Regions from separate parts of the Homo sapiens genome. Here region 2 is linked to region 1. The links come from fine-mapping of genetic effects on gene expression. A gene starts in region 1. The other region holds a variant in brackets. All regions are shown on one strand. Distances are between the middles of the regions. Region 1 holds the start of COMP (cartilage oligomeric matrix protein). Region 2 has its middle 6.4 kb from the start of CCDC124.

Region 1 (2,906 bases):
CCTCGGTGACTTCTCTGTAGGCTCCCCAGAAAACATATCTGGCTCTGAGTCTAGATTCACCCCTGCCCTCGGGCAGTGGCCTTAGGCCAGTCACTTTTTCTCTCTGGGCCTCAGTTTCTCTGTCTATAGAATAGACGCTGTGAGTACTGGAAGGTGGGAGTGGAGAGTGTTAACTGATTGCAGGAGGTTAAGGGGTTTTGTAACTCCAGAGTGTGGCTGGCCAGTTAGCGGTAACTTTTATTTTTATTACAGGCTGTTCCCACAGCAGCTGGAGCACAGTTTGGAAGGTATGGCACAGCCTGGACAAACAGAAGCCCCGGACCTCCCCTTGCTAGAGCCCTTTAACTTGCTCCCCTCCAGATGGGGGCCTCACACCCCATTGCGCAGATTGGAAAACCAAGTGGGCCTGTCCCCTTGGACAGGGGTTGGGGCAAGATCCTGAACGCTGTCCCCTCCTCCACCAGCCGAGGGACCATGGGGAGGGGAGGGAACACCAGCAATGAGTTGGGTTGGGGGGAGTCATTTGCAGCCCTCCAGCGTTGGGGCCAGAAGCGGCCTCCTTGGACAGAGGCAGGAAAATTGAGAGTCCCAGGTCTCAACTGCCCCTCCCCTATTTTCCATTCATCATCATAATCATCATTACTATTAATCATTAATTAATAATTATTAACTTATTACCTCCATTGTGCAAGGGAGGAATTACGCCTGGGTAATTTTTGTACTTTTAGTAGAGATGGGGTTTCACCATGTTAGCCAGGCTGGTCTCAAACTCCTGACCTCAGGTGATCTGCCCGCCTTGGCTTCCCAAAGTGCTGGGATTACAGGTGTGAGCCACCGCACCCAGCAACTTACCCAGTTTTGAAGCACTTCAGGAGGAGTGGAGGGCCAGTCAGTCTGATCCATAGTGGGTGGACCTATTTTTTCAGACGCTGGTGACTCTGTTTCCCGAAGTGTGAGCTGAGAGCGTGGCCATGGAGCCTGCCTTGTTTGGAACTGGAACTCAGGTTTGGCATACAGCAAGCACTCAATCAATCAATCAATCAATGAGCTGAATGCTATGGCTGGATCCTGTAATCCCAGTTATGTGGGGAGTATCGCTTGAGGCCGGGAGTTTGAGACTACTAGCCTGCAGGACATAGCCAGACCCGGTCTCTAAAAATAAAAATAAAAATAAAAATAAATTAGCTGGACTTGGTGGTGCGGGCTTGTAGTCCCAGCTACATGGGAGACTGAAGCAAGAGGATGCGATACAGCCACACCCCGTCACACACACACACACACACACACACAGACGCACACACACAGTGAATGAAAGTGGGGGCAGTACCCCCTGACTCCCTGCCCCACCAGCTCTCTCCACAGACCCCGGGACTCAGTTTCCCCACCATGTCGGATTCAGCCGCGGGCGACTTCGCGGGGCATTCCGGGCGGGGACTTGAACGCAGGGGCCAGCGCCATCTGTTTACCTTGAGGCTGGACGTTGGGCAGGGCTGTGGTGGGCCGTCCCTGGGGCCGGCCGTGCCTTGGGGATAAATAGGCCCCGCGGGCCTCGTGGGCGGTAGAAAGCGAGCAGCCACCCAGCTCCCCGCCACCGCCATGGTCCCCGACACCGCCTGCGTTCTTCTGCTCACCCTGGCTGCCCTCGGCGCGTCCGGACAGGGCCAGAGCCCGTTGGGTAAGCCGCGTTAGCACCCGCGCCGTGCCCACGGCCCCACAACGGACTGTAGGACCCGTGAGAGGCCCGGGATCCAGGCTGTTTGGGGCTCACGGACTGTTCGTAGGGGACGTGCCGGGCGCAGAAAGCAGGTGGCGGGACCGAGACTAGAGGAGCGCAGTGGGGCCTCGGAGGTCCGGGTTCGCTGCAACGGTGGGAGTTGGTGGTGGGATTCCCCGGCCCCATGACGCCTCACCAGGTCCCCTGCCGCCGCAGGCTCAGACCTGGGCCCGCAGATGCTTCGGGAACTGCAGGAAACCAACGCGGCGCTGCAGGACGTGCGGGAGCTGCTGCGGCAGCAGGTGCGGGGCCCGGGTGCGGGGCAGGGAGTGCCAGGGAACGGAAGGGGGTCTCAGTTCCCAGCGAGGAGAGAGGAAGTACCCGAGAAGGTGGAGAGGAGATGGGGAGGGAAGGGGGTCGGCGGGTAGGGAGTCCTTGGCGAAAAGAGGCTGTAGAAAGGGACCCCGGGGTAGAGAGAGGGGAGACCCGAGGGATGAGGAGAGGTTGGGACCCCGCTGATTCCATCCCACCCCTGCAGGTCAGGGAGATCACGTTCCTGAAAAACACGGTGATGGAGTGTGACGCGTGCGGTGAGCGCGGCGGGGCGGTCGGGAGAGAGAAGAGACGGGAGACAGAGACACAGAGACAGAGACAGAGAGCCAGGGAAAGCTGGGGAGGAAAAGAGACGGAAGGAGATGGAGGCTGACGGAGAGGTGGACGGACGAACGGGAATGGGATGGGGTGTGTAGAAACAGAGACAAAAAGAGACAGAAGCGGTGAGAGAGTTTTGGGGAAGTGAGAGACGCCACGGGGCAGAAAAGCGGGACAGAGACTCAGAGAAGAGACCGGGGAGACCCCGCGGTCAGAGCGCGCAGCCTCTGGGGCGGGATCGCGGACAGCGCAGGATTTCGGGCCGCCCCGGGGCGGGGGGTGGGGGGGAAGGGGAAGCCTCCAGCCCCGGGGCGTGGCCATGATAGGCTCTGCCCCCGGGCGAGCCACCGATCAGCCCCGCCGCTTCTCCCCCCTCCCCCCCGCAGGGATGCAGCAGTCAGTACGCACCGGCCTACCCAGCGTGCGGCCCCTGCTCCACTGCGCGCCCGGCTTCTGCTTCCCCGGCGTGGCCTGCATCCAGACGGAGAGCGGCGCGCGCTGCGGCCCCTGCCCCGCGGGCTTCACGGGCAACGGCTCGCAC
Region 2 (2,906 bases), 860 kb after region 1:
GGGAAACGTCGATAAAGAGAGGACGGGCCTAGACTCAGTAAGTCACCCTTGAGTCAGTGTTGATGGCCAAAGTATTCCAAAGATCTCCTTGGACCACTGTCCTTTGGGCAACTTTTCACCATTTCAAAATCTTAGAAGGAAGCTGTGCGCAGTGTTGTGCTTCTGTAGTCCCAGCTACTCGGGAGGCTGAGGCAGGAGAATCGCTTGAGCCCGGGAGGCAGAGGTTGCAGTGAACCATGATCACAATACGGCACTCCAACCTAGGTGACAGAGCCAGATCCTGTCTCAAAAAAACAAAACCAAAACCAAACATGTCTCTCTCCAATGGTACCTCACACTGGGGACAATTTAGAATTTGAGTGGCCACTGTGAGACTTTTCCACTGGAGAGGAGACTTACAACGGAAAGACAAAATTCTCATGAGGCGATCATCTGTTGTGTTATTTATTTATTTATTTATTTATTTGAGACAGGGTCTCACTCTGTTGCTCAGGCTGGAGTGCAGTAGTGCAGTCATAGCTCACTGCAGCCTCGACCTCCCAGGCTCAAACGATCCTCCTGCCTCAGCCTCCCGAGTAGCTGGGACTACAGGTGTGTACCACCATACCTGGCTACTTGAAATGTTTTTTAAAAAATTGTGATAGGGTCTCCCTCTGTTGCCCAGGCTGGTCTCGAACTGCTGGGCTCAAGAGATCCTCCCACCTTGGCCTCCCAAAGTGCTGGGACTACAGGTGTGAGCCACCATGCCTGACTAATTTTTGTATTTTTAGTAGAGACGGGTTTTTGCCATGTTGGCCAGGCTAGTCTCGAACTTCTGACCTCAGGTGCTCCGCCCGCCTTGGCCTCCCAAAGTGCTGGGATTACAGGCGTGAGCCACCGCACCTGGCCAATTAATTATCTTTTGAAGATCCAATTTTTATGTTTGTCTAGAGCCCCCTTTATCTCCGTTCTTTTTCTTTCTTTTTTCTTCCTTCCTTTCCCTTTTTCTTTTCTTTTCTTTTCTTTCTTTTCTTTCTTTCTCTTTCCTTCCTGTCTTCCATCTTTCCTTCCTTTCCCTTTCTTTTCTTTCTGATCTCTCTCTCTCTCCTTCCTTCCTTTTCTTTCTCTCTTTCTCTTTCTTTCTTTCAATAGGAACATGGCAACATATTGAGACCTATAGGAAGAACTGTTCTTCTAACTTATTTTTTTTTTTGGCCTTCTCCATCCCTTTTCTCCTCACTTGGGAAACTTGAAAGATGACAGGCCAGCCACAGTGGCTCACGCCTGTAATCCTAGCACTTTGGGAGACCAAAGTGGGAAGATCACTTGAGGCCAGGAGTTTTGAGACCTGCCTGGACAAGATAGAGAGACCCCTGTCTCTACAAAAATAAAAAAAAAATCAGCTGGCGTGGTGGCAAGCTCGTCTTCCCAGCTACTCAAGAGGATTACTTGAGCCCAGGAGTTGGAGACTGCAGTGAGCCACCATTGCACTGCCTGCATGCACTCCAGCTTGAGCAACAGAGTGAGACCCTCGCTCAAAAAAAAAAAAAAAATCCTTACTGTGACCAAAAGATGTGTCTGGTGCTGAAATGGGTTATAGAGGCCCACAGCCTGGGTGATCACAGAGGGCTTCTCAGAGGAGGTGGCATTTAAGAGCACTCTGAAAATTGAGAAGGAAAGAGCTGAGTGAAGACAGGGAGGGAAAGGCATTCTGAGCAG[C/A]AGGAACAGCATATGCAAAGGCGAGAAGGTGAATGTAAAGTAAAGAAGAAAAAATTGGCCCCAGGCTCTGGTCAACTGGGAGTTGACCTGGTAGTCACAGTGAAGCCGAGGAGTTCTTTGGTTGAACATATACGATTTCACAGAATGACCACATCAAACAGGGCCACTCTGTCCAGGATGAAACCAGACAAAAATCAAAACCCTTCCGTAATTGAGTCTTACCACAGATGAAAATAAGAGCATTGTCCAAACCACAGACATGGCCAAACCTCCCCATCCCCTGGCCAAAGGAGTGACTGCAGTGAGATACAGTCACACCACTCCAGCCTAGGTGACAAAAGTGAGACCCTGTCTCCAATTTAAAAAAAAGAGAGAGAAAGAAAAGGAAAATCACTGTTATTCTATGTGTGGAAAAATCATTGTCATTCTATGTGCAGAAAAATCATTGTCATTCTATGTCCAGAATAGGAGTGTCCACTTTATGGCTGGGCATGGTGGCCCACGCCTATAATCCTGGCACTTTGGGAGGCCGAAGCAGGTATATCACCTGAGGTCAAGAGTTCGAGACCAGCCTGACCAATATAGTGAAACTCTGTCTCTACTAAAAATACAAAACTCAGCCAGGTGTGGTGGTGCATACCTGCAGTCCCAGCTACTCGGGAGTCTGAGGCAGGAGAACTGCTTGAACCTGGGAGGTGGAAGTTGCAGTGAGCTGAGATCACACCACTGCACTCCAGCCTGGGTGACAGAGTGAGACCCCATCTCAAAAAAAAAAAAGAGAAAAGGAGTATCCACTCCAGTTAACTATTCAAAAAGGACTAAAAGACACACACGTTTATAGCAGTATTGTTCACTATCGCCAAAAGGTGGAAACAATTCAGCTGTTCCCTTAAAGGATGCATGGATCAACAGACTGTGGTCAATCCACGAAATGGAATACTATGCAGCCATAAAAAGGAATGAAGCACTGATCCATCCCACAGCACGGATGAACCCTGAAAACACGAGGCTGAGTGAAAGAAGCCAGGCACAAAAGCCCATAGAGTGTCTGATTCCATTTATAAAAATGTCCAGGGTAGGCCGGGCATGGTGGCTCACGCCTGTAATCCCAGCACTTTGGGAGGCCGAGGCGGGTGGATCACCTGAGGTCAGGGGTTTGAGACCAGCCTGGTAACCTGGTGAAACCCCATCTATATTAAAAATACAAA

Evidence for each region. PIP is the estimated chance that this variant, and not a neighbour inherited with it, causes the effect.
Region 2: its variant is fine-mapped to the expression of COMP in lymphoblastoid cells (GTEx, PIP 0.95).

The regions. Positions count from the first base shown.
Region 1 is chr19:18,789,960-18,792,865 of GRCh38, reverse strand. COMP (cartilage oligomeric matrix protein) reads left to right here and starts at 1,561. Exons shown (of 19, transcript NM_000095.3): 1 at 1,561-1,675; 2 at 1,931-2,016; 3 at 2,253-2,304; 4 at 2,752-2,906. The coding sequence starts at 1,597. RefSeq lists enhancers at 1,242-1,820, 1,821-2,401, 2,402-2,906.
Region 2 is chr19:17,925,190-17,928,095 of GRCh38, reverse strand. No RefSeq gene overlaps it. Among named protein-coding and RNA genes, the nearest start is that of CCDC124, 6.4 kb to the left of the region's middle. The variant C/A (reference allele first, on the strand shown) is at 1,699.